3 linked regions of the Homo sapiens genome follow. The protein of the gene in region 1 interacts with the protein of each later gene in a pairwise test. Each region holds a gene or a part of one and is shown in the gene's direction. Other genes may lie near its edges.

What was found.
Region 2: the proteins of SLC12A4 (region 1) and TMEM102 interact in binary tests that used the Homo sapiens proteins (3 or more experiments, as listed by UniProt).
Region 3: the proteins of SLC12A4 (region 1) and AP3M1 interact in binary tests that used the Homo sapiens proteins (3 or more experiments, as listed by UniProt).

The regions. Positions count from the first base shown.
Region 1 is NC_000016.10:67,958,634-67,965,671, reverse strand, and holds part of SLC12A4 (solute carrier family 12 member 4), read left to right. Parts: intron 1-1,619; exon of another isoform or gene 1,620-1,644; coding exon of another isoform or gene 1,645-1,741; intron 1,742-2,112; coding exon 2,113-2,207; intron 2,208-3,965; coding exon 3,966-4,097; intron 4,098-7,038. UniProt on the Homo sapiens protein: Mediates electroneutral potassium-chloride cotransport when activated by cell swelling. May contribute to cell volume homeostasis in single cells. May be involved in the regulation of basolateral Cl(-) exit in NaCl absorbing epithelia.
Region 2 is NC_000017.11:7,431,117-7,438,197, forward strand, and holds TMEM102 (transmembrane protein 102), read left to right. Parts: upstream 1-4,318; 5' UTR 4,319-4,580; exon of another isoform or gene 4,581-4,736; 5' UTR 4,737-4,755; coding exon 4,756-4,969; intron 4,970-5,077; coding exon 5,078-6,390; 3' UTR 6,391-6,563; downstream 6,564-7,081. Other genes in the region: uncharacterized protein SPEM3, read left to right, coding at 1-1,646.
Region 3 is NC_000010.11:74,133,811-74,140,848, reverse strand, and holds part of AP3M1 (AP-3 complex subunit mu-1), read left to right. Parts: intron 1-1,917; exon of another isoform or gene 1,918-2,043; intron 2,044-2,466; 5' UTR 2,467-2,469; coding exon 2,470-2,742; intron 2,743-4,045; coding exon 4,046-4,217; intron 4,218-6,684; coding exon 6,685-6,822; intron 6,823-7,038. UniProt on the Homo sapiens protein: Part of the AP-3 complex, an adaptor-related complex which is not clathrin-associated. The complex is associated with the Golgi region as well as more peripheral structures.

The DNA.
Region 1 (7,038 bases):
TATTTTCTGGATAGCAATACAGTCTACCCAGAAAGACCAGGCAACAGTGATGGGGCAGGCTGTAGTACATGAGTTTAGAATAAATTATAATTGATTTCCAGCCTACTTCCACAAAAGAATCAGAAGAAATAGCCAACAAAAGTGTCTCCCCAAGTGATTGTTACTCTCAGGAAGATTGAAAACCATGCAGAGGAAGGGGGCAAGCACTCAGGTGAGACAGATGGTGACTTTATCTAAAGAGTAAATTTAGCTTGGAGATTCCTGGCAGCCAAAGCAGAAAGAGAAGTAAGACGAGCTGTATAACTGGCATTTTCTGACAAAATGAAGCACCTGATTTATCAAAGGGAGACACTTTTTTTGTCACAAAAATCCAAAAGTAATTTTCAAAGGCTTTTCACTGAAGAGCCATTAATGTCATTAATGTAAGAGGCAGAGTGTTACTGGGTTTTCAGATTTTTCTTGGGACTCCTTCTGATCCTGAACAAGCATGGAGGGTACAGCAGATATCATAGAGTGTCCGACATGACCCCGCCTGGCTTTAACATGACACGGTGGACTGTCTTGACCTCTGGCTGCCTTTGTCCACTGTGCCATTGGCATTGACCTATGTGAATGTGGGGCTGAGCTGCTTGGCTCACTTAGCTAGTCCAGGTTGCTGGGTGTAGCAGGTGTGCCACTTTCACATGCTGTGGGAAGGAAGAACTGACTTTGCCCCAGAAACTGTCATGGGCACACTTGATTTGTTAGTTTCCTTGGGGGATAAAGAATCCACAGCACAGCACCTGCTGAGTGGTTGTTGGCTCAGAGAAAGCAATTGAAGCCTCATGCTGATAGCAAGAGATGTATCAGATACAGGAGGATGCCTCAATCAGCATTCTCAGCTGCAGTCAAGAAAAATGAATTGTGGCCTATGTAAACAGAAAAGGTTGGCGGGCATGGCCAGTGCATGGCCCAATCACACCACTAGCCTGGGCTGGTGGTGACAGTTCTGTTGCCATCTCCATCACTGGACACCATGCCAGTCCTTCTCATGTCAGAACTACATACTGCTGCCATCCAACACCAAGATGTGTGCTTTCCATTTGCTGTGAGGCCTTGAGCCAGGGCCGGGGCTGCGAGGGTAGCTGGGGTGGAGGGAACACTCAGCACCTAGAAAACGAGTGCTTGGCGTTCTGCTTGGTGGGAAGCTGGGAATGGCACCCACCGAGACTCATAAGGGACAAGAGTTGGAAAACAGGGAAGAATGAATGATAGGAGGCCAGAAAAAACAGTCGAGCTTTGGGAGTTGAGGCAGGCTTATTGAAAAGGAGCATTTCACTCCTTTTGGCGAGATTTCTCAGAGCTGGGGCACTGGCTCATCAGCCTAGGGCTGTAGGCGGAGGTTTGCCTGGGGCAAGCGGCGGGATCTGCGGGCAAGGGGGCCATTGTGTTGCTCCTGCCAGCAGTCCCAGCTCCCATTTTTCTCCCTGCTCAGTCCGACACCCACCCGTCCGACTTTCTTAGGCAACCCTAGAAGGCTCCTGGAATCCACTTCCGCTCTCCACGGCCTGGGGCTTGCCCCACCTCCCGGCATGCCCCGGGCTGCCCTGCAGGACGCCCCCCGCGCAGTGCATGGTGGGGTAGCCAGCCGGCCACCTTTGGGCCATGGCAGCCGAAGGTGCTGTGTGCGGCTTCGTCTATCTGGAGGGCACTGCCTGGGCGGTCCCTGAGGACACCGAACCCTTGGCATCCTGCACATTGGGTACTCCGGAAAGACCGGGAAAGGGACTGGGGCGTGGAGGCGATCTGGGGGCGGGTCAAACGCTGGCCCCGCCCCTCTGCAGGCCCCGTCCCTCAGTGTCCATACGTGCTTGTGCTAGGGCGCCTGCGCCCTCACCTGGATTCCCTTCACTGGAGGGAATGATGTCCCAGGTTTTGGTCACTGGCCTCTCTCTGGCTATCCCTGGGCCTTCAAGAGCATTGGCACGGTGCCATGTGAAAACTGAGTTGCAACCTGGTGACACTGCAGCTCCAAAGTGCTCCACAGAAATGATTTGGGGACTGGCTTTCTGGGAAGGGGCCCAGGCTGGGGGGCTCAGGAAGCAGGCCCTGATTGTCCCTCTCTCTTCACAGGACATGGCAACCACAGAGAGAGCAGCCCTTTTCTTTCCCCCTTGGAGGCTTCCAGAGGAATTGACTACTATGACAGGAACCTGGCACTGTTTGAGGTAGCTGAGGAGCCATTTTGGGCCACAGGTTTGGCACACAGAGGCTTTAGCTAAGCAGGCAGGCTGGACACGTGGGCCTCCTCTGTCTTGCTCTTCCTCTCATCTCCTCTTGTGTTCCTGGTTCTCATGGCAGCCGGGCTGCAGTTCCCTTGGCCCTTTCAACTGAAACTGCCTTTCCAGAGGCCACTCACAATCCCACCCCCATTGCTACCTCCAGGGTGGTTCACCTCTGACTTCCTTACAACCCCTCAGCAAGGAAACGCCCGCTTAGGATTTCCCAACTCAGGATTTCTCCTCTTCCTTCCACTCCTGGTTCTTCTCCAAGTCCATGGTTCTTCGCTCTCCCATGGATTCTTCCTTGTCTTTCTTGGTTGACCCTTCCAGCTCTGTCCCTCTCTAGTTCCCTGAGTCCTGGTCCATTTGCAGCTTTAGGGGATACGTCTCTGGAAAGATTCCCAAATATCTGCCTCTGTACTTGAGTTTTATCTTCTTCAGACTCAAGCTGAGCAGTGAGATCTGGATTTAAGACGTAGTTTAAGCTCCTAAACTCTGACCCATGCATTCAGCCACTGCATGGCTGAGTAATGGAGACTCCTTAATCTGCCTTTTTTTTCTCTTTCTTCATTTTGAGATGGAGTCTCACTCTGTCGCCCCAGGCTGGAGTGCAGTGACGCGATCTCAGCTCATTGCAACCTCTGCCTTCCAAGCTCAGCGATTCTCCTGCCTCAGCCTCCCGAGTAGCTGGGATTACAGGTGCCCACCACATGCCTGGCTAATTTTTGTGTTTTTAGAGACGGGGTTTCACCGTGTTGGCCAGGCTGGTCTTGAACTCCTGACTTCTAGTGATCCTCCTGCTCAGCCTCTCAAAGTGCTGGAATTACTGCTGTGAGCCACCACATCTGGCCGAGGCTCCTTAATCTCCACATGCCCCCAAGGGCCCTCGTCTTCCTTTCTCACACCAAAGCAACTTCTCCCTGTGTGTAGGTCAGAAAGGAGCTGACAGAGAGGGAAAAGCTAAATGTGGGCAGGAGGCAGGTAGAAGCACAGCCTCGAGAAGGCTGCAGGAGCAGGGATCATCGCCTAGACCCCGGTGGGGCTGGGGGACCTGAGCTCTGGGAGGCCTCCTGACCTGGGAAAGCAGCAAGGTTCTGCGGTGAAGGCCTTGGCCCAGCCCCGCCTGAGGATGGGCTGGAGGATCAGGATCCCATCTCCGCGATTGATGTGGGTACTTGCAGGACTGGGGTCAGGGGAAGACCATCCAGGGAGATCAGGGTTTGGGCAGACAAGGGAGACTTCACTTGTCCCAGACATCACTCTTTTGCCCTCTTTGGTTCCCTGAGGTGACTAGAGTGGCTTTTTTGTGGGGAGGGTAGGCGTGAGTCCTAGAGGTGCAGCCATAGCCAGGAGGTGGCTGGGCAGAGCAGGCAGGATGAAGTATGCCATTGCCCCCCTGCCAGCCGTGTTCTTCCCTGCCCTCTCTCCCCTGAGGCAGGTGGTTTTCACAAATGGGCTGGCAGTGATTGTAGCCAAGGCGGGGTAGAGAGAAGCAGCCGCGGGGCTGGGCCTTTGAGTGCCACGTGCTGGGGTGTGGTGTGCACACCTGTCCAGTTGGATGGCTTGGACTTCCCCAGGTAGGAACTGGGATCAGGCCCAGGCCTGTCTCAGGGCTTGGAACAGGGCCAGGGACCAGGCAGCTGGCTCCACACAGCTGGCACCCACCTGGCCCAATGCCATCTTGCCCTGTGGCTCTGTTTGCAGGAAGAGCTGGACATCCGCCCAAAGGTATCGTCTCTTCTGGGAAAGCTCGTCAGCTACACCAACCTCACCCAGGGCGCCAAAGAGCATGAGGAGGCCGAGAGTGGGGAGGGCACCCGCCGGAGGGCAGCCGAGGTGAGCTGGTTGGGGCGGCAGAGGGGCCACACCTGGGAAGACAGACACAGCACCATGGAATTGACTGTTTCCCCACATGGTGGTGAGCACACTGGGGGAAGTGGGTGCCAAGCATAGTGAGCAGGGAGGATGGGCACTGAATGCCTTGTCTCAGGAGGCTTTAAGAAGTGACCTAATGAGAATCCCCCCGGGGGGCAGAGGGCCAGGGAGCCCCTCAGGAATGACAGCAGGAGACACAGCTGCCTGTACTCAGCCTTTACTGTGTGCGAGGTACCACACCAGGCCTGGGTTCTCATATGTCATCTGTACAACAAAACCAAGAGGCAGGTGCTTACTATCATCCCCATTTTTCAGACAAGGAAATAGTGTCAGGGACATTAAGGAACTTGTCTAAGGTGACTGAGCTAGACAAGATCAATGTGTAATGCTGGGAGATGGATTCGTAGATTTTATGGGAGACAGATTTGTGGGATATGTAACTATGCAAAATGCCAGATCAGTGACATTGTGTGAGGCTGGCTAAGAGTGTTGCCCTTGGAGCCAGGAACCAGGTTGTCTCTCGGAGGTCATGCAATCCAGAGCAAGTCACAAACCCTCCTGCTGCTCGCAGTGTTGGCCCAAGGCTCTATTGGCAGAAGCCTCCAACAACCCCCTGGGTTCCTTGAGTGCCAGTGTCAGGGGACATGTGTATGTGATCGGAGCCTGATGCTGCCTTGTGGGGCTTTCCTGTCCCACTTTTTGGTCACTAATCCAGTTCTCTGGCCCTTCAGCCCTCTTCTCTTTGGGGTGACTGTTACCTCTTTGCCTAGCTCCTCTGTGTCATTGCGGCTCAGTGTAGCTGAGGGCTGGGGATTTTTCTACATTTTTCATTTGGAGGCTAGGGACCCTCCCTCTCCACACACTGACTCCCTGAGGTTTGGGAAGCAGTGGTGTTTTAAGAGGAGCTGACGTCTGGCACTGGCTGTAGTATTCTCAGAGGTCGGCACAAGCAGAAGGCGCTCCTGGCTGGGATAAGCCAGGCCTGCAGCCTCACACCTGGTCGTGAGATTTGGGCCTTTCTGGGGTGGGGCCAGCAGAGAAGGTAGACCCCACTGAAGCGCGTCTCTCACCTTGCCCTTCAGGGAGGCAAACCAGCCCACACTTCAGAGAGGGCAGCTGATACCTTGAGGTCGCACAGACCTGACCCTGACCCTGTGCAGCCAGGTGTGACTAGATAGCAGAGAACCCTAACTGCGTCTGGCCATGTCTGTCCAGCACTGCAGGGGTGTCTCAACCTCTGAGAGTGCTCTGCCCACAGTGGGTGACAGGATCCTTAGGTCAGAGCCTCATCCTTGTCCCTTCAGGCCAAGCCAGGGAGCTGGTGGCGGGGAGTGAAGAGGCCCCTGAGAACGGCTAGTGCACATCTCAGCAGGAATGTGGGAGGGATGCCTGGGCCAGAGAGAGCCCATCATCCCTTGGCCCAATGGGGAACCCGTGAGGATGCTTAGCTTAGCTATCCAGCTTACCTGGCCACAGGGTAAGGATGGGAGAGGGTGACTGGGTGTCTTAGCTGCAGTAGTTTTTTCATGGAAGAAGGAGGAGCTGGGTCAAGTCTTTAAGGAGTCAGTAGGAAGTTAGGGATCTGGGGCTGCTGAGCTGTGGTCCTCACCCAGGGCAGGCCCGAGCAGGGGCCTCGGAAAAGGAAGGCTTGAAGCAGGAAGGGTGGGCCTCCGACCAGACCATGCCAAGACCCAAAGCAGCCTCTCCCCAGCAGCTGCTCCAGCTCCAGCACCGGCTTGATGACCTTCTGAGGCTGCCAGAGGTTATTTGGGGATGCAGAAAGCATTTCCGGCCCACCCTGCCCTTTCCCACACTGTCCTTTTCTTAGAGTGACTCAGCCTGGGATGGGGGTGGGACTGGGAGCTCTTGCTGTCGCTATTCTGTGGGTGGCATCCTCTGAGAAGGGCTCAGACAAAGCCCAGATGAGGGGGATCCGTCCCCTGCACTGCTCCACGCAGGACAGGTTGAGGAGCCATTTGTTTTTGCTGAGGCTCTTCTGAAGTCCTTTAGGTCGCTCACAGGTCTTGCCCCAGGCCAGGACCCTTCAGGAGGGGCATTAAGGAACTTGTCTAAGGTGACTCAGCTAGACAAGATCATGGCCATGGAGTTCTCTTCTCCCTAGCTTCAGGGCAGCACGGGCACTGTCTCGTGGGTCTTCCCTGTCCCCTCTCCCCGTATGATTTTCACTAATCTAGTCCTTTGGATCAGTGAGGAGGCTTTGCTGGGGCTCCAGTGGAAGCTGTCAGGGCCACACTTCGGAGGCTGCACTCTTGGGGGCTCAGTGCCTCAAAAAGATGTCAGCCAGCCTCTGTGCTCTCAGCCTCTGCCCTGGCCTCCTGGCTGGCCCCTACTCTGCCCTGAGTTGAGAAAGCCTGCCTGGATTTGCGTATTAGATCTTCCTCACCTGCCCTACAGCCTGAGCACTTTCTCTGTAGGATTTTCCCAACAGGATGTCCCAGGGGCTTCCAAAGCACCACTCACTGGGTTCAGAAGCACCTTTTGGGTACCTGCAGGGCCTGCTGGTGATAGAACCATAAACAAGCCAAGCCTGCCCTAATATAGTAACAAAATATACAAGCACATTCTGTTACCATGACCTGTAGTGACCACTGTGATAGGGAGTATCAGATGCCAAAGGAATGTGAGAGGGAGAACCAACTCCACCTGAGGCAACCTTCGGACATCTTCCCGAGAGAGGTAACAGTTTCACTGAAGAGTTTGCCAGGCCGTGAGGCAGGGCCGACTCTCCCAGGCAGAGTCCAGCACATTCTCAGGTTCGCAGAATCTGAGGGACCCATGTGGTCAGGGGCTGGAGCTAATAAGAGAGGTGATGGGACACATCTGGTGGCCCAAGCCAAGGAGTTGGACGGCACACTGGATTACAAGACAACAGAGGGTTTTC
Region 2 (7,081 bases), on another chromosome or scaffold:
CCATTTCCCAACCCCTGATCCAACCCCAATGCCCTGAATGTCATGAGAGTCTAGGCCTTACCCAAGATTCTGGCCTTCAAAGGACCCCAGGCCCTTCAAAAGACTCCAGAGTTCCCAGGAATCTGGACCTTGCCCAAAACCCAGACCTCTACAAGAACCCAGGCCTTACCCAAGATCCAGGCCTCCACGAGAACCCAGGTCTTGCTCCAAATCAAGGCCTACATGAGTTCCCAGGCCTTCCCCAAGATTCTTATCTCTGCCAGAATCCAAGCCCTTCTCAAGACTTTGGTCTTCACAAGAATTCAGGCATTACTCAAGATTCCCACCCCCAAAAGAACACAGGTCTGACTCAAGAAGCTGGTATCCTTAGGAGCCCATGTCTCACCCAATCCCCTGGCCTCCACAAGAAAACACCATTTACCCAAACTTCTGATCTTCAGAGGAGCTCAGGCTTTACACAAGACTCTGGAATCTATAGGAATCTTGAACCAAACCAAGAGACTGTGATCTACAAAAATCAAGATCTCTCCCAAGCAACTGACCACCAAAAGAACCTAGGCTCTTCTAAAGATTCTGGAGGTCACAAGAATACAGGCAATGTCCAAGATCCAGGAGTCTGTAGTACCGCAGGCCTTACTGAAGATTCTGGATCACAGAAGGGTCCGTATGTTCCCCAAGACTCTGAAGTCAATAAGAGCTCAGGAGTTATCCAGGAATCTTTTCTCCACAAGAGCCCAGGCCTTGTCCAAACCTCTGGCCTCCCAAAGTGCTCAGGCCTTACCCAAAACTCAGGAGACTACAAGAATCCAGGACTTATCCAAGATTGTGGTGGCCACAAAGTTAAAGGCCTTACTCAAGATTCCAACCTCCCAAGCCTTACCCAAGCCACTAAAGTTGAAAGAAGATTTAGCCTTCCCCAAGATGTTGGAGTTTACAGGAGCTCAGAACATAGCCAAGACTCTAATCTCCACAAGTGCCCAGGAATTAATCAAGATCCTGGCCCCCATAAAGACCCAGCCCTTGTCCAAGACTCTGGCCTCCCCAAGATTTCAGGCCTTACCCAGGAATCTGGCCCCTACAAGAGCTCATGCCTCATCCCAGATCCCAGCCTCTACAAGAACCCAAGCCCTGCCCTAGGTTCTGATTTTGTCCAGCTTTTGTCCCTGCTTCAGACCCCAAAGTCCACACTGTCCCTGATGAAGTCATCTGTGCCTGAGAAGGCTGCTCAGAAGGAGGACGCACAGCGGCACGTCCTCTGGGCTCGTGTCCAACTCAATGAGAACTCCTGCCCTTCCAAGGCCCAAGTGGTCTCCAATGACCTGCAGACCTTCTCAGAGGTACCTGTATTAATTGAGCTGCAGTCATCCTCCTGGCGGGCAGGCAGCCAGCACGGGGCGTACCGCCCTGTGGATACAGTTCCTTCAGGCTACCAGAACTATCGTCAGATGTCTATGCCTACCCATATCAACTGGAAGTCCCACTGCCCTGGACCAGGCACCCAGGCAGGGCATGTGGTTTTTGATGCCCGTCAGAGACGGTTGGCAGTGGGCAAGGACAAGTGTGAAGCTCTGTCTCCTAGGCGCCTTCATCAAGAGGCACCCAGCAACTCGGGGAAACCATCAAGGAGTGGGGATATCAGAATGTGATGAGAACCTTGGACAAAGAGGGGACAAAAGTGCATCAGGAATAAAGAGGCGAGAGAAATGTTCTGTGTTTGTTTGAGGACATCCACCCCAGCCCATCCCCGATACTGGCCACCCACAAAGCCACTGAGGACAGGTCCCTGTTTCTCCTCCATAGCTGCATAGCTAAGCCCATTATCCTCAAGGCCCTAGAGCTCCTCTGTCCCATACACTAGCCATTAGCCAAATGTGGCTATTAAAATGTATATTAGGCCTGGTGCAGTGGCTTACACCTGTAATCCCAGCACTTTGGGAGGCCGAGGTGGGCGGATCACCTGAGGTCAGGAGTTCGAGACCAGCCTGGCCAACATGGTGAAACCCCGTCTCTATAAAAATACAAAAATTAGCCGGGCATGGTGGTACACGCATGTAATCCCAGCTATTCGGGAGGCTGAGGCAGGGAGAATCACTTGAACCTGGGAGGCGGAAGTTGTGGTGAGCCGAGATCGCACCATTGCACTCCAGCCTCGGTGACACAGCAAGACTCTGTCTCAAAAAAAAAAAAAAAAAAAAAAGTAGATGTTACTGCGGAACACATTTTTAAATTTTGTTTAATTTTAATTTACATTTTCTTTTTTTCTTTTTCTTTTTTTCTTTTTTTTGAGACAGAGTCTCGCTCTGTCACCCAGGCTGGAGTGCAATGGCGCGATCTCGGCTCACTGCAACCTCTGCCTCCCAGGTTCAAGCAAGCGATTCTCCTGCCTCAGCCTCCTGAGTAGCTGGGATTACATGCGTGCACCACCACGCCCAGCTAATTTTTGTCTTTTTAGTAGAGATGGGGTTTCACCATGTTGGCCAGGCTAGTCTCGAACTCCTGACCTCAAGTGATCCACCCGCCTCGGCCTCCCAAAGTGTTGGGATTACAGGCGTGAGCCAGGGCGCCTGGCCACATTATCTACATTTCAAGTGCTCAACAGCCACAGGTGGCTGCTGGTGGCTACTGTATCAGACAGGACCAACTCAGGACATTGCTATCGTCACAGAAAATTATATTGGAGAGCCATGCTTTAGAGTTTAGAGGAACTATTCCTTGTCACCCATTCTTAACATCTTCAAAGCTTCCACAGAGTCCAGAGAACTTAGTTCTTTTTAGAGTGCCTCGGAAGCCACCCTCTGGGAAGGAGGTGAGATGCAGGGATGTCTGATGCCTGGTTACTCCAGACTGTGAGAAACAGCCCAGTCTCCAGTTCTCCTGATCTGGCCTCTTGGGTCACAGCCAGATGTGTGTGTACGGGAACCTACTTGCGCAGTTCTGGGCTGCTTTGGTGCTCTCGCTTCTCCCAGGGACCCCAGCTCTGGTTGCTGAAGGAGAAAACTCTCTGTCAGTGACGAGGAACCCCTGAGTCCTGGGCTTGCCAAATTGATCTCTACAGTTGGGGAGTCTCTTCTTTTACAGGCCTCTAATTTTCCTAGATGTCCTCCTTAATTATCTTATCCATGGACTTAGGCCTATCCCGTCCTGGAGACAGACCAAGGGCAGAAGGAATGTAAGAAGTCGTGGCCCAGGCCGGGTGCAGTGGCGCGTGCCTATAATCCCAACACTTTGGGAGGCCGAGGTGGGAGGATCACCTGAGGTCAGGAGTTCAAGACCAGCCTGGCCAACATGGTGAAACCCTGTCTCTACTAAAAATACAAAAAATTAGCCAGGTATGGTGGCAGGCGCCGTAATCCCAGCTTCTCGGGAGGCTGAGGCAGGAGAACTGCTTGAACCCGGGAGGTGGAGGTTGCAGTGAGCGGAGATTGCGCCACAGCACTCCAGTCTGGGCAACAGTGCGAGACTCAGTCTCAAAAACAAAACAAAACAAAACAAAAATTTGAGATCCCAAAGTGTTTTCCCTGCCACGACTCAGGTAGCAGTGAGCTGAGGTGGGCATCACTAACATGTATGTCTCTCCTATGAGTCAAACGTCCATTTCTGGGTCACCATCTGTGTGCTCCTGCCTAACACTACCACTTTTGGGATTCCAAGATGCACCCCCCCCACCCCACCCAGGCAGGGGTCCCTATCTCTCCCCAGGCCCTAGGGTGGAGTTTCGCTCTTATCACCCAGGCTGGAGTGCAATGGCACAATCTCAGCTCACTGCACCCTTTCCCTCCTAGGTTCAAGTGATTCTCCTGCCTCAGCCTCCTAAGTAGCTGGGATTACAGGCGTCTGCCACCACGCCCGGCTAATTTTTGTATTTTTAGTAGAGACAGGGTTTCGCAATGTTGGCCAGGCTGGCCTTGAACTCCTGACCTCAGGTGATTCACCCGCCTCAGTCTCCCAAAGTGCTGGGGTTACAGGCGGGAGCCACCGCGCCCGGCCCATCCCTCATTATTTTTTGCGACTCAGAGCCATCCTATTACCCCTCTCAAACCCCAAGGAATGTTTGAGTGGGGTTGATATGGGTGTGAAAAGACACAGAATAATCTGTCTCCAGAGGAACTACAACTTCCATCAGGCACTACTTCAGCGGAACAGGAAAGGATGTGGGGGCGTGGCTACCACGCCCTAGTAGAGCGGGAAACTACAACTCCCAGGATAACGCGGGATTTCAGCAGGGCCAAAAGAGTGATTGAGCTCTGACTGGCGACCCGACCCGGCGGAAACCACCTCGACAGCCTCCAGAAAGGGGCGTGGCTGAAAATGTAGGGGCGTGGCCACGTGGGCATCAGGAAGAAGTAACCTGTTGAATCTATTTCTGCTCCCCACCCTTACTGCTTCCCATAAGGGGGAAGCCGCAGACTAATAAGCCTCTTCCAAAAAAGAGGTAAAGGGAGGTAGACAAGGGGCGGCAGCGGAGGCTGGCTACTGCATTCCGTAGGAGGAGCCAACAGTTACTTTTTACCTGCTGAGTCCGGTGAACCAGTTCATGGGGGCGGGGACCTGCCTATGAGAAAAGGGCCAGGATAGAAGAGGTATTTATTTGTTCATTTTGAGGACTAAATTTAGAACCCATCATCTACAGACCCATTTGTAGGTTGTGTCTGGGGCACTCGCTCGGCCTCAGGAAGAGGGAAGAACGGGGACGACTTTGTGGCAGCAAAGCCACCTCCCTTCCGTGTTTTCCGCAGCCCAAAGCGATAGAACCGCATGGCTTCCGCAGTCTGGGGGAGTGCCCCCTGGTGGGGCCCGCCGCCCCCGGCCCCAGCTCGGCCGCTCACGGACATCGACTTCTGCTCCGGGGCGCAGCTGCAGGAATTGACCCAGCTGATCCAGGAGCTGGGTGTGCAGGAGAGCTGGAGTGACGGGCCCAAGCCGGGAGCCGATCTCCTCCGGGCCAAGGACTTTGTCTTCTCTTTGCTTGGTAAGTAACCCTACTTGCCTTTGGGAACTCACAGCTCTCAGCCTCACCACGCCCCCGCCCCCGCCCCGGCTTTGGGCGACGCCCTCACGATCCGTTCCCTTTTTTTAGGTCTAGTTCACCGCCGGGACCCTCGCTTTCCTCCCCAGGCAGAGCTCTTGCTGCTTCGTGGTGGGATTCGCGAGGGCTCCCTGGATCTGGGGCATGCACCCCTGGGTCCCTACGCCCGGGGACCTCACTACGATGCCGGCTTCACACTCCTAGTGCCCATGTTTTCACTGGACGGCACTGAACTGCAACTGGACCTGGAATCCTGTTACGCACAGGTCTGCCTCCCAGAGATGGTGTGCGGAACCCCCATCCGGGAGATGTGGCAGGATTGCTTAGGACCCCCAGTCCCAGGAGCACGTGATTCGATCCACCGAACGGAGAGCGAAGAAAGTTCCAAGGACTGGCAAAGCTCTGTAGACCAGCCGCACAGCTACGTCACTGAGCACGAGGCGCCGGTGTCTTTGGAAAAATCGCCTAGTGACGTTTCAGCGTCCGAGTCGCCTCAGCATGACGTCGTCGACCTTGGCTCTACCGCACCTTTGAAAACAATGAGTAGTGACGTCACCAAGGCAGCCGTCGAAAGCCCAGTCCCAAAGCCGTCGGAGGCTCGGGAAGCGTGGCCCACATTATGTTCCGCCCAGGTGGCTGCCTGGTTCTTTGCTACGCTGGCGGCGGTCGCCGAGTCTCTGATCCCTGTCCCGGGTGCTCCGCGTCTGGTGCACGCAGCTCGCCACGCGGGTTTCACCACCGTCCTCCTGGCTACCCCTGAGCCCCCTCGCCGCCTCCTGCTCTTCGACCTGATCCCAGTGGTGTCCGTGGCGGGCTGGCCCGAGGGGGCTCGGAGCCACTCGTGGGCCGGTCCGCTGGCCTCTGAGTCGGCTTCCTTCTACCTGGTGCCCGGTGGCGGCACCGAGCGGCCGTGCGCCTCCGCCTGGCAGCTCTGTTTTGCCCGCCAGGAGCTGGCGCTCAAAGCGCGCATACCAGCGCCGCTGCTGCAGGCGCACGCGGCGGCCCAGGCGCTACTGCGCCCGCTGGTGGCCGGGACCCGGGCGGCGGCGCCCTACCTCCTGCGGACGCTGCTGTACTGGGCGTGCGAGCGGCTGCCTGCGCTCTACCTGGCGCGGCCAGAAAATGCGGGCGCCTGCTGCCTCGGGCTGCTAGACGAGCTCGGCCGAGTGCTCGAGGCCGGGACGTTGCCTCACTATTTTCTGAACGGCCGACAGCTCCGTACGGGGGACGACTCCGCTGCGCTGCTCGGAGAATTGGCCCGGCTCCGCGGGGACCCGGCCCGGGCCCTCCGTGCCGCGGTGGAGGAGGCCAAAGTGGCCCGCAAGGGGGGCGGTTTGGCGGGCGTGGGGGGCGGGGCCCATTAAAGACGCTGTTCCTACCAGTGGAAAGTGCCTCTGTGGGCGAGCGGGACGTGGGGGGCCCTGCTCGCCCCTCGCCAGGGGGACTGACTGTGTGCCCTGGGCCTGAAGCCCCCCTTCTGGAAGACCTCCCTGTTGGTTCCTCCTCTACGCCCACCCGCCTGCCCCCGCACAAGTTGCCCCATTCCAGCCTCGCTATTCTCCACATCTGTGGCCAGCACTCCGCCCAGGGGCAGCTTCCAGAAACCGTCTGTCCCCAGTTCTTTTGGTCATTTCTCTTAAGGGCCAATAGAAATGGGAGAAACATATTTGCTGACCAAACGCGAAAAGGAGTTATGGAGACCAGGGTCTGATCAATTTGGCTCACACAACGGCAGAGATATGAAGGAGGCCGGATTTCGCCCAAGGCTGGATCTCACCACCCCCCATCCTCCATCTCTCCAGTTCTTCCCCCACTTTACTCGTGCGGTTCTTTCTTCACTAACATCCCGGCCAGTAGGGTCTCTCTCCCTTCTCCCAGCGTCCGCCATTCCATCTCCCTTAGGCCCAACCTCTCCTTCCTACCCAGGGGTGCGTTCAGGAGGCCTTCCTGTCCCTCCTCCTCTGAAGGCTGAGACGTGCGGCCTTGCCTCGGCTTTGCCTGCTTGTAAGACACAGTCCGCACTCTCTACCTCCAAGGAACCCCGGGGTTCCTCCT
Region 3 (7,038 bases), on another chromosome or scaffold:
ATTCTTTTGTATGTGGAAATCCAGTTGTTCCAGTACCATTTGTTGAAAAGGTTGTTCTCTCTCCAACTGGTCACCCAGGTCTTGGCACCCTTGTTGAAAATCAGTTGACCATAAATGTAAGGGTTAATGTTCTATTGATCTGTAGGTCTGTCCTTGTGCCAATACCACATAGTAGTTTTGTAGTAAGTTTTGAAATCAGGAAGCACGAGTTATCCATCTTCGTTGTTCCTTTTTTTTTTTAATTCAAATATATATATTTTTTCAATCTTTTTAATTCTACATATTTTTGTAAGCATCCCCCCAATTCTTGTTTCATAGTAAATCAGACTGTAGATGAAGCATTTCAGACCTTTTGTCAATCATGTCAAGTGTGAGGGGAAGTCTTTTGTAAGTCAGCCAAGTATTTCAAAATGAAAAGCTTTTCCAAAAGTAAAGGCAGAAGACCCCGCTTTGAAGGCGCTGGTCGGCACAGAAGGGCTTGCAAAGGTATGTAGGGAAGTCCACCGGTTACAGGTGTAAGGTGAGTTTAACCTACGGCGACCAGCTGGCCAGGAGCGCCCCAAGGCAGACGAGGACGTGGGGCTTGGGCGCACGGCCGCCTGCAGCCATCTCGCCCCAGATCCTGGCTCAGGAAACGCAGGCTCGGGCTGGGGTGGATGTGTGCGCCCCAGGGCCCTGGCACCCGGGGGACCGAGGGCTCCTCCCAGGTCCTTGGAACAGCAGAGTGGCTCCCAGGAAGGATGCTCAGCTGCAGGTGGGGGTCCCTGCTCCCAAGCACCCTGGCCAGGGAGGAATGGCGCACCCCACCCCGTTCGCCCCTGTTGTTCCTTTTCAAGATTGTTTTGGCTGTTGATCTTTTTCAATTCCTTATGAATTTAGGATTAGCCTGTCAAATTCCACGAAAAGGCAGCTGGGATTTTTTTTTTTTTTTTTTTGAGATGGAGTCTCAATCTGTCACCCAGGCTGGAGTACAGTGGTGCAATCTTGAGTCTCGGCTCACTGCAACCTCCGCCTCCCGGGTTCAAGCGATTCTTCTGCCTCAGCCTCCTGAGTAGCTGGGACTACAGGTGCGTGCCACCACGCCTGGCTAATTTTAGTAGGGACGGGGTTTCACCGTCTTAGCCAGGATGGTCTCGATCTCCTGACCTCGTGATCCACCCACCTCGGCCTCCCAAAGTGTTGGGATTACAGGCGTGAGCCACCGCGCCTGGCCTTTTTTTTTTTTTTTTAGTAGAGACAGAGTTTCTGCACGTTGGCCAGGCTGGTCTTGAACTCCCGACCTCAGGTGATCCACCTGCCTCGGCCTCCCCAAGTGCTGGGATTATAGGCATGAGCCACCACGCCCGGCCTGAAATTGTTTTATTTCATTTTCAGTTTTGTTTTGTTTTTTTTTTTTTAATAGAGATGAGGTCTCACTATGTTGCATAGGCTGGTCTTAAACTCCTGAGCTCAAGCAATCCTCCTTCCTCAGCCTCCCACAGTGCTGGGTTTATAGGCATGAGTTACAATGCCTAGCCCATTTTTAGTATTTTATAGCTATAGTGGATAGAAATATAATTGATTTTTATATTGACTTGTGTCCTGCAAGCTTGCTGAACTAAATTTATTAGCTCTAATAGGTTTTTTTTTGTGTGTGTGTGGATTCCTTAGGATTTTCTATATATAAGATTGTATCTTCTACAGATACAGTTTTACTTCTTCCTTTCCAATTTGGAAGCCTTTTGTTTTATTTTCTTGCTTAATTGCCCTGGTTCAAACCTCTAGTACCATGTTGAATAGAAATGATGGGACTGGGCATCCTTGTTAGGTTTTGTTATTAAGGAGAAAGTGTTCGGTCTTTCACCTTTAAATATAATATTAGCTGTGGGGTTTTCATCAGGTTAAGGAAATTTTTTTTTTTTTTTTTTTTTTTTTTAGATAGTGTCTCACTTGGTCACCCAGGCTGGAGTGCAGTGGCGCAATCTTAGCTCTCTACAGCGTCGATCTTCCTCCTGGGCTCAAGCAATTCTCCTGCTTCATCCTCCTGAGTACCTAGGACTACAGGCAAGTGCCACCATGCTTGGCTAATTTTTGTATTTTTTGTAAAGATGATGTTTTGCCCTGTTGCCCAGGCTGGTCTCAAACTCCTGAGCTCAAGCAATCCGCCCACCTCAGCCTCCCAAAGTGCTGAGATTACAGGCATGTGCCACTGAGCCTGGCTGAGGAAGTTTCTTTTTGTTCTTAAATGGCTTTCTTTTTTTTTTTTTTTTTTCGTAAAAGGATGTTGGATTTTGTCAAATGCAATTTCTGCACCTTTTGAAATGATTGTTTTAGTTCTTATTGTATATCATGTTGATTGATTTTTGTATGTTGAACCAGCCTTGCATTCTTAGAATAAATCCCACTTGGTCAAGGTGTATAATCTTTTTGTGTATGTTAAATGATATTTAATGTATAATAAATTTAAACCTTTCTTTGCCCCAACAGAAAATGATCCACAGTCTATTTCTCATAAACTGTTCCGGTGACATATTTCTAGAGAAGCACTGGAAGAGCGTTGTGAGCCAGTCTGTCTGTGATTATTTCTTTGAAGCTCAAGAGAAAGCTGCTGATGTTGAAAATGTACCACCTGTCATTTCAACACCTCACCACTACCTCATCAGTATCTACCGGGATAAGCTCTTCTTTGTATCTGTCATACAGACCGAAGTGCCACCTCTCTTTGTAATTGAGTTCCTACATCGAGTTGCTGACACTTTTCAGGTTGGTTATCTATCATACCTTTCTAAGTTAAATGACCCAAGTTAGCTGAAGGTGAGACATGATTATATTATTTAATTACCCAGGTTTTGATGTTTACTGTCTGTCTCTCTCTGTTTAAGCGTAAATTCATAAGCCCTTTTCTGTGTGGTATACAGTTACACACATGGCTGCTCTATTCACTATTTTTTATATGTATTACAGATTACAGTTGGCTCTCCATATACATGGGTTCTGCATCCATAAAGTCACCCAACCTTACATGGCAAATATTTGAACAAAAAAATCGAACTGAACATGTACAAACTTCTTCTCATTATTACTTGAACAATACAGTATAACAAATAGTTACATAGCATTTACACTGTGTTAGATATTACAAGTAATCTAGAGGTGATTTAAAGTATATAGGAGGATGTGTATAAGTTATGTGCAAATACTATGCCATTTTATGTCAGCGACTTGAGAATTGTGAACTTTGGTATCTACAGGGGATCCTGGAACTAATTCCCACAAATACCAAGGGATGACTGTATATCATCAGGAAACAATAATGCCCTCCGCATACAGTTCTCTCAATGGTCTCAAGATTTTCATTGGTTATGAACTCTTCTATATTTACATTTTATTATTTTGTCTTGCGGAATATACCAAATAATTTAAGCTTATCTATATGTATTTTGGGATAATCAGGGTGAATGAAGTTTATAGCTCAAATTCCAATTTAATGTTTCAATACTTTCTGGTATAATATGTAATAGGAATTAAATTCAACCTAGAAATATCAAGAAAATATTGAGGAATAATATTAGGACTATAGAGGGGTTTTTTTTGTTTGCTTGTTTTGTTTTGTTTTGTTTTGTTTTGTTTGAGACGGAGTCTCACTCTGTTCCCTAGGCTGGAGTGCAGTAGCATGATCTTGGCTCACCGCAACCTCCGCCTCCCGGGTTCAAGCAATCCTCCCGCCTCAGCCTCCCAAGTAGCTGGGACCACAGGTGTGCACCATCACACTCAGCTAATTTTTGTATTTTTAGTAGAGACAGGGTTTCACCATGTTGGCCAGGCTGGTCTTGAATTCCTGACCTCAAGTGATGCATCCGCCTCAGCCTCCCAAATTGCTGGGATTACAGGCATGGGCCACCATGCCCGGACTATAGAGGGTTTTTTCCCCCGCTCTGTTTTATATATGTTCAGCAGCTTAAGCAATGAATTATGCTACTCTAAGTTTATTCTTCAGAACAAAAAGTATTTAGCAGGCCTTTCTTTTTGCCTTCCATTGTGTGATATTTTGTGTGTATTTTGTCAGGACTACTTTGGTGAGTGTTCAGAGGCTGCAATTAAGGATAATGTGGTCATAGTATATGAACTCTTAGAAGAAATGTTAGACAATGGATTTCCACTGGCTACCGAATCTAACATTTTGAAAGAATTGATTAAACCACCAACAATTCTACGCTCTGTTGTCAACTCTATTACAGGTAAGATGAAAACATACTGTGCTAGTAACTGAGCAATTAAAACTTTGTAAACAACTCATTATTGCTCATGATCTGACATATTATTAAGGTAGTACAATTTGGCCATAATTAAAGTTACTGGTAAAGTTAAAATGGATGTACTATATATTTATTTTCATGGAAAGAGGCTAGACCTTAAGTGATAAAGAACTTTTGGTTATTACTCTTTTTTTTTTTCTAAAACACCACAACAATATTATTACCATTATTTAACACTAAATACTAAGACTGAATAAATTGTTCCAGTTATTCCTAAAGAAGCCAGTATATGAGCCCACTTAGAAGAGAATTTAGTCCATTTATAGACTGGCATTTTAATATTTAAAATAGCATTACATAACTGGTATGCTGCTACTCCACAATTACTAGAGAATAGAAAATTTAAGACGCTTAACCACACAGTACTACAATCTCCTCCAAGTCTTTGTTTTTATGCATTCAGAAGATGTATTAAGAAAAAATAGGAAATAGTTTACTTATGAGATCTCATGCATTGTGGGCCTGTACTTGTGTTGTAAGCTTCCAGCTGGGTTTAATTCTTGAGTGTAGCTAGAAATTAGGCACATCCAGATACCAATATTCTTTCGAAAGCATTAAAGTCTTTTAGACAAAGATTCCTATGAAATGTTATATGCCACTCCAACTCCACTGTCAACCATTGTAAACCCCTGTCCAGTGCCTTGACCTAAAAATGAGGTGAGAGAGGCCTATAAGAAAAAGATCATTCAGCAGCTCTTTATTCATCCTTTGTGTAAGGACGAATGTTAGGAGAAATTCAAAGAAAGATAAGATGGTGTGTCTGTACTCCTAAAACTTATACTCTGAATGGGACATTGGAAAAAAAATTAAGTAAATAACTGTATAAGACTTTAAAAAGCAATTCCATACTTCACAGATAAAGTAATAGCATTGGAAAATAAATACACATGATGTAACGTTAAATTGAAAAGTCAGCACAAAACTGAAAAAAATTATTCTTATATATAAATATTCACTCCGACAAAAAAGTATTTACAATGATTATACCCAGCTAAATACAGATTATATTTATTTTTGCTTTATACTTTCTAATTTTCCAAAATAAACATGTATTTTATAGTCAGAGAAAAGTTACTAAAATATATAATGCAAAACATAACAGATTCATTAGATAGTGTATTACAAAGTTCAAGAGAATGGTTCCATTAATGAAGTAATCCCTCCTGAACTGTGGTGGGTGGCCACCTTGGAAAATCAGTAGAATTCAGGAAGTGAGGAAGGAATAAGAGCATTCTCCATGGTGGAACTGTATGAGAAAAAAACACACATGAAAGAGAAAAACCTAAAGTTTTATTAATCCCTTTAGCAGAAGCAGAACTGTTTTTCACTTGAGAAGTTAGAGATCAAATTAAAAAGTAGAGAAAGTCCTTCAAAGCTAGGATAAATATTTAGCTTTTATCATAAAGCCAGTGAGCAAACATTGAACGTTTTTGAGCAGGAAGATAACATGATTATAGGTTGCAGGTAGGAACACCAATCATAAGTAGACTGCAAAATTGTAGATACAGTATGATTGCGACTATATTTTAAAGTGCAATTAAAAACCAAAATTATCAAAATAGAAAAAAATGCAACCTTCTGGTGGTGGAAATATTCAAAGAAATATACCAAAATGTTAATATTATATTAAAATGTTAATACCATAATATTAACAAAAATGTTAATGGTAGATATATTTTGTTAGTAAGAAGACAGGTGTTTTTCTTTAAACCACTTCTCTGAACTCTACCTTTTTGTTGTTGTTAAGTATGTAGTACTTTCGAATGGGAAATATAAATTAACCAAAATATTAAGTAAGTCACAGCTCAAAGATATGTGTTTTGGACAACCAGACTTATTTTTAGGCATGTGTCAGTTTACCAGGAAATGAGCTGGATACTGAATACTAGCTATATTGCAGCCGTATGGGTATGCTGACCTTAAAATAGGAAAAGGCCAGATTCCATTTACTCCACTGAGGCGTGCTTGGCAGCATCTCATGTAAAATAAAGTTGAATACTGAAGGGCCTAGTTATAACTCTGTATTCTCACTGGAGACATTTTATTGGCAGAAGGTTTTGAAACAACCAACCTCTTTTTTCATCAGTGGCAGAGATTCTGTTGTTGAGCCACTGGAATTAGATTAGATTACTGTTAACACACAGGAGGCAAAAGATAAGTAAATAAATTTAACCTGGTTTGGCAGGTAGACAGAGGGCCACATGGCCTATATTTCTTTTCTAGAAATTTGATCATGTTGGTATGGATATGTCTGACAATTCTAGTGACCATCCACAACTTCATTAAGAAAAATCCAAACATTGAAGAAGCAGCTTTTTTTTTCCTAGTAATAAATTTTCTCATGACTGTTTTATACATCAGCTTTGCCTTCTCCTTTTTTGGTTTCTAGGCAGTAGTAATGTTGGGGACACACTCCCCACCGGGCAGCTGTCCAACATACCATGGCGTCGGGCAGGGGTAAAGTACACAAACAATGAAGCCTATTTTGATGTTGTTGAAGAAATAGACGCAATTATAGATAAATCAGGTAATTGTGTGCATGTCATCTTATTTGGGGAAAAACAATTCATCTGACACAGATGAATAGAAAACTGAAGTCCTGGCCGGGCGCGGTGGCTCACGCCTGTAATCCCAGCCCTTTGGGAGGCCAAGGCAGGCGGAACATGAGGTCAGAGTTCGAGACCAGCCTGGCCAACATGGTGAAACTCTGTCTCTACTAAAGATACAAAAAATTAGCCGGGCA